3 linked regions of the Homo sapiens genome follow. The protein of the gene in region 2 purifies or fractionates together with the protein of the main gene of each other region. This does not show direct contact. Each region holds a gene or a part of one and is shown on either strand. Other genes may lie near its edges.

Region 1 (3,649 bases), on a different chromosome or scaffold from region 2:
CATATTTATTATTTCTAGTAATTCTGAATGAAAAAAACACAGAAAAGACAGAGCAATATTTTTTATTCATATGTACCACATAATTTCTTATGTAAACTTATTTTATTTACAGAGGCACTATACCTTAATTAACTATAAATCTTTCTGGTTCTGGGGATCTTAATCAAACCAATCATAAAAATTTTCTATCATAAGACACTCAGGCTCAAAATAATGGCTTAGGACTAGTACTAGTTTTGAATTAACTTTACCAGCCAACAGAAACAAGGTTTTTACCTTCCAAAAAGTCTCTGTTATTAAAGTATGTGATCCATTAATGTAACTAGAGAATTGTTCAGTAATGGTATTAATAATACACCAACAACAGAATATTTATGAACACATATTGTCAATATTACCTCGGGCCCATCCAATAGCTATCATGACTATCCAGCCATTTTTGTAATAGCTATTAGCATGTGTGACTCCACCTACTATTTTCCAAGTTCTGGTCACTTCCTTCATTCCCGAAGCCAGTAGTTGAACAGGTAGATATGAATAGCCCTGGGAAACTAGGTCATGCGGGCAAAAAAATGTAATATACCTGAAAATGAAATGTAAACATTTTAATATATTAATGGAATCAGAAGAACAGAAATTAAAATCTAACCTAACAGCAACAACAATTTGGCAAAACACAACAAATGGAATTTTCCATATAAACATTTAACTTGATTTCAATAAAAGCACAACTTGGGTAGGGAGGCAATTTTTTAAATCACATGAAACATATGTCATCTGCCAAAAAGTCATGATCAGAGAAGAATGTAAACTGTGGACTTCTGAATACTTTATAGATATATGAAATATTTAGTGAGCTCTTAATTTGTGCCTATATTGTTCTAGAAGCTAAGTGCTGAATCCAGTAACAAAACAAATGTATAATCATTTCCAGGGGTAGGAACTCCTACACAGTGTCTTTGTCCTCTGGGAAAATGAATTAGAGAAAGGGTCCTTTGGTAAAAGCAAGGGCTACATTTCAATCTCAAATAACATATTCACCTGTGCCCCACTGTGCAGGACATAAACTACAATCTATACAAAGGTACATGACGGCTCACAAGGAGGCAGATTTGTATTAAGGAAAAACACATTTCTATACAGCTGAAAGAATATGAAGCTGTTCTTTAATTTAGTTCACTAAGCTTAAGTTTTAACCAAATTAAACTGTGATTAAAAATAATTCATCCCATCTATGGTAAATTATTTTTTTAAACTTCATTTGTTCTAAGCATCTATTCGAATACTAGCAGTAAGATCTATTGGAAAACATACTGCTTTTTTCTCTCCATTCTCCAAATACTCTGGCTGACAATTTTGTGCTTAAAGTAGAACATATCTTCTTTCTAACGGGGTAAATAAAAGACATGGCATGAAAGAATATCATATCTCTTTTAAAAGAAGCTATTAATCTTATTGCAATTCACGATTTATAAAGTCAGAATTCTTCAATGTTCATGAAATATGAAATGTTTGCCAAAATACTGCTTCAGCGACTAAATAAAAAGATACAATAGTCTGTTTAGCCTAAAGCACCCTTTCTTCTTCATCTCCACTTACCAATTCCTTCCTACTCTTCAAGGTGCCACTCAAATATTACCATAGTCATTGACTTTGGGATTCTTATTTTATTTTAACATCTCAGCTCAGACTACATTCTGATGGCTCTGTAAAACTAAACCAATTGGTTCCTATGCCTAAAAATAGCTCTTTATACATTATTCTTTATAATATAAAATAAAGGCTATAATGCTCATAATGAACTACAATAGTTCTTAGATGACAGAAATCATTCATCTTGTTACCCTCTAACCTAAAACTCAGCATGATGAAAAGTAGCCCTGAATTAAATCATTTATTAGCAGTCAATCTGGATTCAAAATCCAAAATACAGCAAATCAAAGCATTAGTTGATAATTAAAGAGTTTGAGAAAAAAGAATAAACTATCTGAGAGTAGTAAAAAGATTTCTGAAGACCATTTGTATGGCTTTAAAATTGTACATGTTCTATAAGATTTTTAAAAACAACTAGTATGATTTAAAATTTTTACACATTCATAGAAAATTTGAAAGTCTGTATAGTTCTCTCTTTGAATATAGAACTAATTTCTAAGAAGTTGGTTAGGTAATGGGGGAAAAGTATACACACTTAATTTTTAAATGTATTTTTATATCTATTATAGATTACATTAAGAAAGGGGGATTTGTTTTCACCTTAGCAGTAATGAGCACCCAAAAGTAAAATATTCAGAAAAACAACCAAAAGAATGTTATAAATGACCCATTTTCATTCCTTACACTAAGCCTAACTTTAACGTGAGTTAAAAACCTATACTATTACAATAGCAATCTTGGACTTCGGTATTCAACTATGTGACATTATAGTATAAGACATTAAAAAATTTGCAATTATTGCAACTCTTCTATTTAATCAGATCTTTCTAAAGCACACCTACAATAAGTTAACATTTTAAACAAAAAAACTGTTTTCATTTGAGAGTTAAGTAGCCACAGGGCAAAAGAACAATTGTTTATTGTGCTCAGTAGACTTACAAGTAAACATATCAGACCAATGGCACACTCAACAACCATTCCTGCTCTATAACAAATTAGCCTTTAAAATTCTTTTAATAAATCCCTCAACCAACACTTATTAGGTAATAACCTTGTAACCCTTCTGTAAACATAATTTCACCTTTAACTAAAATTATCATATCCAAGGTAACTTTAACTTGTAAAGTGCCTAAAGAAAACATATCACAAAATGAGAGAGGAAGTGGAATGAGAAAACAACTGACTTCTCATACATTTAACTATAGGTTAAGTTAATGGAGAGAAAAAATAACGAAAGAATAAACGTCTCAAACGGGATACAAACAAGACCCTAGGCCACAAACAAATGAAATCTCAACCAGTTTAAGAAAAAGTGAGAGTAGAATTTAGGTATATACAAAAAGTTAGGCAGAGAGAAGCTTCCCAGGCTTAGTCATTGAGAACTCTGTTTTCACTCTACTATCAATTCCACTCCTCTATCGAAGACAGTATCACTTAACTAAGACAAAACACAATGATAAACTAAATACAGTTCATGTTAGTCCAGTATGACAGCTTTGTTCTTGCTCTTATCACTCCAACAAATTGAAAATTTTTTGTACATGCTTTGAAAAATACAGACAGAATGACAACTATAAAATGATACCTTTTGTTGTATTTTTCCTCATCTAAATGTAGTCTCGGTTACACAAATGTGCCATATATAAGTAATTGATACTTGGAATTTTAAGAAAAATATATAGGAAACAAAAATAAACATACTAAAAAATTATAAAATATTTATTTCCCCCGGGAACAGCTTTTCAAAACAAATAAAACCTATGAAAGTGTACACAATACTATGACATACCAAGTTATTGTTTCTCTTTGCCAGTAGATGGTGCTAATTTCCAGATGTATACACTATGAGCTACTGTACTAAAGATTACCTTGCTTGCTTGTTTAAAAACATTTCTAACATCATTTTATCTCTCAAATTAAAATCAAATGGGCAGGGCACGGTGGCTCATGCCTGTAATCCCAGCACTTTGGGAGGCCAAGGCGGGAGGATCACGAG
Region 2 (3,649 bases):
TGGTGAAGTGGCTGACGCCACCCCAGTGCTCTTTAGAAGGTGTGCTGAGGGTGATTTATTCATCACTGCCCTTCTGCTCTTACCTGTCCAGTGGGATCCTCACCTGCCAGGGTGCCGGTGGCTGCTGAGACCCCAAAGAAACCTCCAGGGACCAAAAGCAGGGGCCCCACATCCACACAGAACTCACCTGGATCACTGGGAGTGAGGCCACTGTTCAAGGACATCTGAGGGACATGGAGAGAGTGAGCAGTGGGGGGGTGTCCCTACCTCTGACTCCCTGGCTCCCCTGGCCGTGGGATGGCAGGTGGCCCTAGGGCTTGGTATCAGAATGGCATGGAGGTGACCCGCACTCCTGGTCTCATGTGAGCCCTTACATGTATGTGCTCTGGGTGAGTGTTAGGATTCTGTGTAGGGATGGAGGATCCCCTGTGGATGTTGGCCCGTGTGTGCCAGGGACCTCACGTGGTGTCACAGGCACTGGTGTGTTGGGGCCGTGGGCACGCACACATAGCAGCTCTGTAACTCAGAGCCCTGTCAGAAGCAGGAAGGGTGACTCACGCGCAGCCTCTGCCCCCAGTAGGTGATCCGTGCTCTGAAGGGGTGTGGCCGGTTCCGGAAGTCCCAATGACAGGAGCCCAGCCCTTGGCTAGCTCCATCCCTGTGGGCAGTTTGTTCATTTGTTTGTTTTTGAGAAAGAGTCGCTGCCCAGGCTGGAGTGCAGTGGTGCAGTTGTGGCTCATTGCAACTTCTGCCTGCTGGGCTCAAGTGATCCTCCCACCTCAGCCTCCCAAGTAGCTGAGACTACAGGCATGCACCACCATGCCCGGCTAATTTTTGTATTTTTAGCAGAGATGGGGTTTCACATTGTTGGTCAGGCTGGTCTCAAACTCCTGACCTCAAGTGATCCACCTGTCTTGGCTGCCAAAGTGCTGGGATTACAGGTGTGAGCCACCATGCCTGACTCTTGTGGGCAGTTGGAATCCAGCCAGGATATACAGGACTCAAGGCCTGGACAGTGAGGGCAGTCCCAGAAGCCACTCTGCCCAGATTTGCTGTGCCACCTCCCTTTCCGCTGGGCGAGCTGGCATGGGACATGTACCTTGTCTAGCTTGAGTCTCCCTTGTTGTACCCTGCTCCCTTGGCAGAAGAGAGAGGAGCAGGGGAAGCAAGCCCTGCCTGACGGAGTGTTGGGACTTGGATTTACAGAAGGGGCCAGGGGCCTCCCTGTGGCCCTTCCTTAAGGGGACAAAGGCCTGGACCAACAATACAGTTTCTGCCCTCCATTCCCCCGACCCACCTATCACCCTCGTCCTATCACCCTTACGTCCCTCCTTCTTCTCTCTCTCTTTTTTTTTTTTTTTCTGAGACGGAGTCTTGCTCTGTTGCCCTGGCTGGAGTGCAGTGGCGCGATCTCGGCTCACTGCAACCTTTGCCTCCTGGGTTCAAGCGGTTCTCCTGCCTCAGCCTCCCGAGTAGCTGGGATTACAGGTGCTCGCCACCACACCCGGCTAATTTTTTTAATTTTTAGTAGAGACAGGGTTTCACCATGTTGGCCAGGCTGGTCTCAAACTCCTGACCTCAGGTGATTAGCCCGCCTCAGCCTCCCAAAATGCTGGGATTACAGGCGTGAGCCACTGTGCCTGGCCTCTCCCTCCTCCTTCTTTTAAACTCCAAGTCCTCTGTGCCTCTGGCTTCCTTTTCCTCTCCCAGCTGCCAGGGCTCAGAATGCAGCTGACTCAGGACGGATGACCTGGACATGTCCCGGCAGCCAAGGACAATGTGACCAGGCTGCCTCCCTGACAGGTCGGCTCGGCAGGCTCTGGGGAGTCAGGAGAAGAGTGTTAAACGCTGAGTGTCTCTGGACACCTCAGGCTACTCACAGCAGAGCGTCTGACAGTGCCGCCTTCCGCCAAGAGGGAGGCAGCACAGGGCAGGGGAGAAGCCAGCACCACAGCAGCCACCTGGGTTTGTGCCCCGAGCTATGTGACCTTGGGCAAGCCATCTCATCTCTCCAAACCCCAGTGTTCCCATCTCTAAAACGAGGATGGTAATTGGAACGACCTCATAACAATGTTATGAGGGTTAACTAAGACAGTAAATGAGAAGGGCTTGGTGCTGTGCCTGGCATACAATCAGCTCACTCCATAAATGCAGGCAATTACTCTAATTGTTATGAGCCGAGAGAAGGTTGCTGAGAGACACTGACAAACCGGCCCAGCTACTGAGGAGGCAGTAGGGCCGGGGAGGGACAGAAGCCAAATCATCAGGGGAAAGGGAAGGGACAGCTATGCAGGGAAGGGCGAGGACCCTCCAGGGGTAAGTCTGGGCTCAAAGTTCAGCACTGCGCACGGCACATCCCTTCCCCTCTCTGGGCTCAATGTCCTGACCTGTAAATGGGACGAATAACCCCCCACTTATGGAGGGTGTTGGAGATGGGATGAGATCATGGGAGCAAAGATACTCATCACAGGCCCCAGCCTGTGTCATTTCACCTGGGGCTGCTGGGTCGAAGGAATCAAGCCCCAGGGGGGCGGACGTCGGCTAAGTGAGAGAGTCCAGCAAGTATGGCGGCCCGGCAGGGTGGGCCCCCTGCTGGAGGAGGCTGGGGCAGGGGCTCGGATGGGGGGGATGGGCCCCTCCCAGTGCAAAAATGGAGGTGAGTGGTCAGTCCAGACAGGCCCTTACCCAGGCTGCTCAGAGGGGATGTGCCCGTCGCTGGCCAGCACACGGATGGCAGGACTGTCCTGCAGGGAGGTGAGAAGCAGCCTGAGCCGCGGACATGGCGGGAGGGGGAGGGTGTGAGCGGGCAGGCGGGCTGGCAGGCAGGAGACCACTACGCACCTGAGTATCCTCTGCCGGAGAGTCAAAGAAGATCCCGATGCCGTCCCACGAAGCCAGCCCCCCAAGGACAGAGCCTACATGGCCCCTGCCCCGGGTGTACCACACGGCCTGCAGGTCCCCAGCCCCTCAGCTCAGGGAACCGTGTGGGATACTGGGACCCCGGGGCTCATCACCCGCCTCCCTGACCCACCCCGCTCTGTCAGCTCTGGGAGAGGACACTCACCATGCCCTGGGCTCCCCGGCGCCCCAGTCCCGTCACCCTCATCTGCACCTCTACTTCCCAGGCAGAGAAGGGGACAGAGGCCCTGCTCCACACGGCGCCACTCCGGTTCCTCATGGATGGCGTCAGCCGCACTTCCTCCAGGCCCAGGATGGCGTCTGTGGACAAGGGCAGCTCAAGCCCCAGGCTCCACTACACCCCATCTCCCCCTTCACTCTCTCACTTGGCCCGGGCTGGGCTCCCGGAAGAGAAGGCGACAATGCCAAGGCCTACCATTAAATAAGCGGCCAGCCAGGGAAGCAGGAGTCAGAGCCCAGCACAGCTGGAGGGGCCTTTGCTGGGGAGGGCAATGAATGCCAGCACCATCCACGTCGTCAGTGAAGCCTCACCGCAGTGTGTGCTGTCTGTTTTTATAAGACCCCATCTAACAGATGAGGAAGGTGAGGCTCATAAAAGTTAAGGAACTAAGTGGATTGGATGGAATTCAGCTCCATATGACTCCAAAGCACAAGCTTTTTCCACCACGAGAGAGATTTGTGTCTAACCCTTCCCATTTCTCAGATGACGAAACTGAGGCCTTGTGACAAA
Region 3 (3,649 bases), about 16 Mb from region 2:
GTTCTACTCTGTGGGGTCTCCGAGACCCAGGCCCAGGAGTCACCTGAAAGCCATTGAGGTCTGTGAAGAAGATACCCTGGCTGTCGATGTCTGTATGGATGTGCAGGGCCAGCTCCTTGTTGACGTAGTCCCGGATGTCCACCAGGGATGATATGTCCAGAGACAGCCCCTCCACCCCTGGGTACAGGAACAAAGTGGGGGCATGGACAGGTGTGAGGCTGAAGCACAGCTAAGAGGCTGGGCTGGGGGATCAGAGCCGAGCTGGGGAGAGGCTCTGTCCAACCTCCCAAGAAATCCCCAGGGCATTTCTGGATGACTTTTTCTCCAAGAGAATGGAGCATCCCTGTCTCAAATGATACGGAACAGAGGTATGAACAGAGAAGCAGCAGAAGGAAGAATACGCCACAGTTGTGGAGCCCACACCTCCTTCCAGACCCTTCCTCATATGCAGGGCTCACCTGGCAGATTGTAAAGCCGGACCGCCTGGTGAATGTGCTCATAGTACGCAACCACCTCTGAGAAGAAAGGGCCTTCAGTGACACGCAGCACGGGGGGCTCCTTGGGGACGTAGGGCTAGAGAAAGAGCAGATTGCTGTTGAAACTACAGCACAGAGGGCAAAGCAGGAAGGTGCCAGCCCAGGGCTGGGCAAGAGAGCACCTATTCCCAGACACCCCTGGGCTGAACAGGAAAGACAAGGCCCCTGGCAGGCAGCAATAAACCTGTGGGAAGGCCTGTGCCCCCTCCTGCCCTCCCTGCCAGGTTGTTCAAGGCATCTTTAGGATACCTTGGCCTCGCCATCGGGCAGGAAGAGGTAGGCTCCACTCTTGTCTTTGGACGTACGGGTGCCATAGACAAGGACCTGCATGTCCACCTGCTGCTCGTGCTCCTCATCCACCCTTCGGATGCTCTGCCAAAAAACACAGCCCTGACCCCTGGCCCCACACCAGCATGTCAGGCCTGCCTCCTGGGAGGACACGGAATAGCTTCCCCAAGGAGCCGTGCCCTGCTTCCCCATGCTGTCAGGCTGGAGCTGAGATGGCCCAGGCCCCGGTCCACTGTGGGTCAGGTGGCAGAATGCTCACAGGGCCGGGAGGCCGCTCTGCACAGTGCCACCACCACACACGCCCTACTCTGGCCCCTGGCCCTTCCCCACCACCCTGGCCTTTTACCTTGAGGAGCCCAGTAAGGCCTGAGAACCAGACCTGCATGTAGCGGTTGCTGAGGGCGAAGTCGCTGGTGCCAGAGTCAATGACACGGAGAGGAAACGCTTCGTGCCTGCTGACGGACAGCTGCCGGCCGTGCAGGTAGATGCGCACAGAGGAGGGCAGCGTGCGGTGCCCATCCAGGCCCAGCTGTAGCTGCAGCACGCCCAGGCCCAGGGCTGGCAGGCGGACAGGCACAGACACCTGTGGGCACAGGAGGGGTGAGGAAGTGGGGGCACGGCTTTCGCCACAGGGGTGCTGAGGCATCCGCTTACTAACAGAGGGCTTGAGCAAGCCCCTGCACCCGCTGGGCCTCTGCCCCTCCTCCAAAGTGGAGGTGATCTGATTTGCCCTTTCTTCCTCATCAGACTTTATGATTCTCAAGTGATATTTGAAAAAGTATGAAGCGGTAACAACACATTAAGCTTTCGATAAACATTGAATGACTGAATGATGGGGCATTATAACTGCTATTTTTACCATTACTATTACCATACCAACCTTCCCCTTCTTTTCAAGGACACGCTCAAATCCCAAGAGTGCCTGTCTTCTGGACAACCCCCTCCCCAGGACACTTGTCCTCAGCCTGGAGAGTAGCAGGGCCACAAGCAGGAGGGTGGGAGGCTGGCGTCGCCGGGCGGGGAGGGGCCCACGACGGGCAGAGGGCCAGGCCCACCTGACAAGCCCACACCTCACCTGGTAGACGTCAGGGACCGCCTCGGTGGCAGAGCTCCAGTGTGCGCTGATCTGCACGGCCAGGGGCTGACCCTCCTCCGAAAGGACACGCACGCGGGGAGAGTTGACCAGCAGGGACACCATGCTGAATCGCTCCTGTTCCAGTGGGTTGAATAGGACCACAAACCTGTGCGTAGAAGGTGGGCTGACCCAGGAGGCTGCTGCTTCCGACCAGGGCAAGCGCCCTGCACTGGTTCAGCACATGCTGGGGCAGAGGGGCCTGAGAGCCAGGGAATGGCTCTGCCTCTCTGCACATGGCGTAGTCCAGGTTACCTGGGCGAGGAATCCAGCTGGATCACCGTGCGCTCTGGGAGGGCGTCGTGACTTAAGCGAGTGTCATCCTGGAATTCAGTGAGCCGGAAGGGAAGAACCATCATGGGCTCAGCCTCCTCCCACCCCACCTGTCCCAGGTGTGGACCAGCGGCTGCACTGGGCACAGAACTCATCCGGATGGGGAAGGAAAAAGAGAAGCGGCACCCCCATCCAGCAGCTCTTGGGATGGGACCTGCACACACCAGAGGGTCCCCATGCAGACCCAGGAGGGGCTCACCACTTGGAGGAAGGGCGCCTCAGGGTCAAAGTGGTAGGTCTCCTTGTCCCCCAGCACCAGATAGTGGGCTGCATGAATGATGACCTGCTTCAGGTTGACAAGGGAGCGCAGAAGCCTGTGGGTGGCGCAGGAGAGGGAAGGAGAGAAGATGACCATAGGGAAGCTGTCTGCCTTGTCAGCAGGACAAGCCCTAGGCCGGCCTACCCCCTGACCACCCAATGTCCTTTCTTTGGGACAGTGAGCAGGGGAGCTTACAAGGGAAAAGAGAAGGCTCCCACCTGACCCCATAGTCCACCACCACAGCCTCCTTGGCCGTGCCAGTGATGGCATCGTGATGCTGGAAGAGCCCCAATGTGCGCCGAGCTTCCGTCAGGAGGGTGAAATCAGACAGTGGGTACCGGCCAGCCAGACCAGAGCGGCGAGCGTGAGCTGCAGCCAGGCTGTACAGAACCTCTGCCCCCCTGCCCAGAGAGAGAAGTTAGCTGCCAGCCTGCACCACTAGCCAGGGCCCACCCACACTCTGCCAGTGCAGCCTCCTTCCTTCCCACCCCTCCTCTACCTGCCCTGGCCTCTGGGCCTATCTATTCCCTTCTGAGCCAATCCAGCCCCTCCTTAAACCCCAAAGGCTGACTCTCCCCCTCCAGCCTGGAAGCGGGGACAGGGTCTCACCGCAGGTGGGCTTCCAGGACTCGGTCTAAGCTCTTGTAGAAGGGCCGGGAAGTGTAATAGCCTGTCCAGTAATGATCCTCCCGGTCCGCATAGGAGAAGAAATCCCCGCTCAGCACAGGAAACCCTGGAGGCCGGGCCCCTGGCTCCACCCCTGTCCTCTTGTACAGGGCATCAAAATAGTCAGAAAGAGTGCCAAACTGGGCCTGTGGGAACCCCAAAAACCCACTCCCATCAGTTCTAGAGCCTCCTGCAAATTGTGGCCACAGTGCTGCAGTTGGGGGTGAGGCAGGGGCTCTGGCCTCAGAAGCAGGAACTGTACATCCTGCCATTCTAGACTTAACAGAAGTAGGGGAGCCTGGGAATTAATTCTGACATAAAAGGGGCACCTTCGGCTGGGCGCGGTGGCTCACGCCTGTAATCCCAGCACTTTGGGAGGCCGAGGCGAGTGGATCACGAAGTCAGGAGATCGAGACCACCCTGGCTAACACAGTG

Evidence for each region.
Region 1: the proteins of LMAN1L (region 2) and TMEM38B purify together in Homo sapiens (affinity purification with mass spectrometry; one large-scale study listed by BioGRID and IntAct). This does not show direct contact.
Region 3: the proteins of LMAN1L (region 2) and MAN2A2 purify together in Homo sapiens (affinity purification with mass spectrometry; one large-scale study listed by BioGRID and IntAct). This does not show direct contact.

Annotation. Positions count from the first base shown.
Region 1 is NC_000009.12:105,718,471-105,722,119, reverse strand, and holds part of TMEM38B (trimeric intracellular cation channel type B), read right to left. Parts: intron 584-3,649; coding exon 399-583; intron 1-398. UniProt on the Homo sapiens protein: Intracellular monovalent cation channel required for maintenance of rapid intracellular calcium release. Acts as a potassium counter-ion channel that functions in synchronization with calcium release from intracellular stores.
Region 2 is NC_000015.10:74,815,727-74,819,375, reverse strand, and holds part of LMAN1L (protein ERGIC-53-like precursor), read right to left. Parts: intron 3,220-3,649; coding exon 3,065-3,219; intron 2,950-3,064; coding exon 2,842-2,949; intron 2,745-2,841; coding exon 2,686-2,744; intron 659-2,685; coding exon 559-658; intron 225-558; coding exon 104-224; intron 1-103.
Region 3 is NC_000015.10:90,909,801-90,913,449, reverse strand, and holds part of MAN2A2 (alpha-mannosidase 2x), read right to left. Parts: intron 3,361-3,649; coding exon 3,158-3,360; intron 2,950-3,157; coding exon 2,767-2,949; intron 2,604-2,766; coding exon 2,489-2,603; intron 2,280-2,488; coding exon 2,212-2,279; intron 2,066-2,211; coding exon 1,900-2,065; intron 1,408-1,899; coding exon 1,171-1,407; intron 934-1,170; coding exon of another isoform or gene 909-933; coding exon 786-908; intron 574-785; coding exon 459-573; intron 178-458; coding exon 44-177; intron 1-43.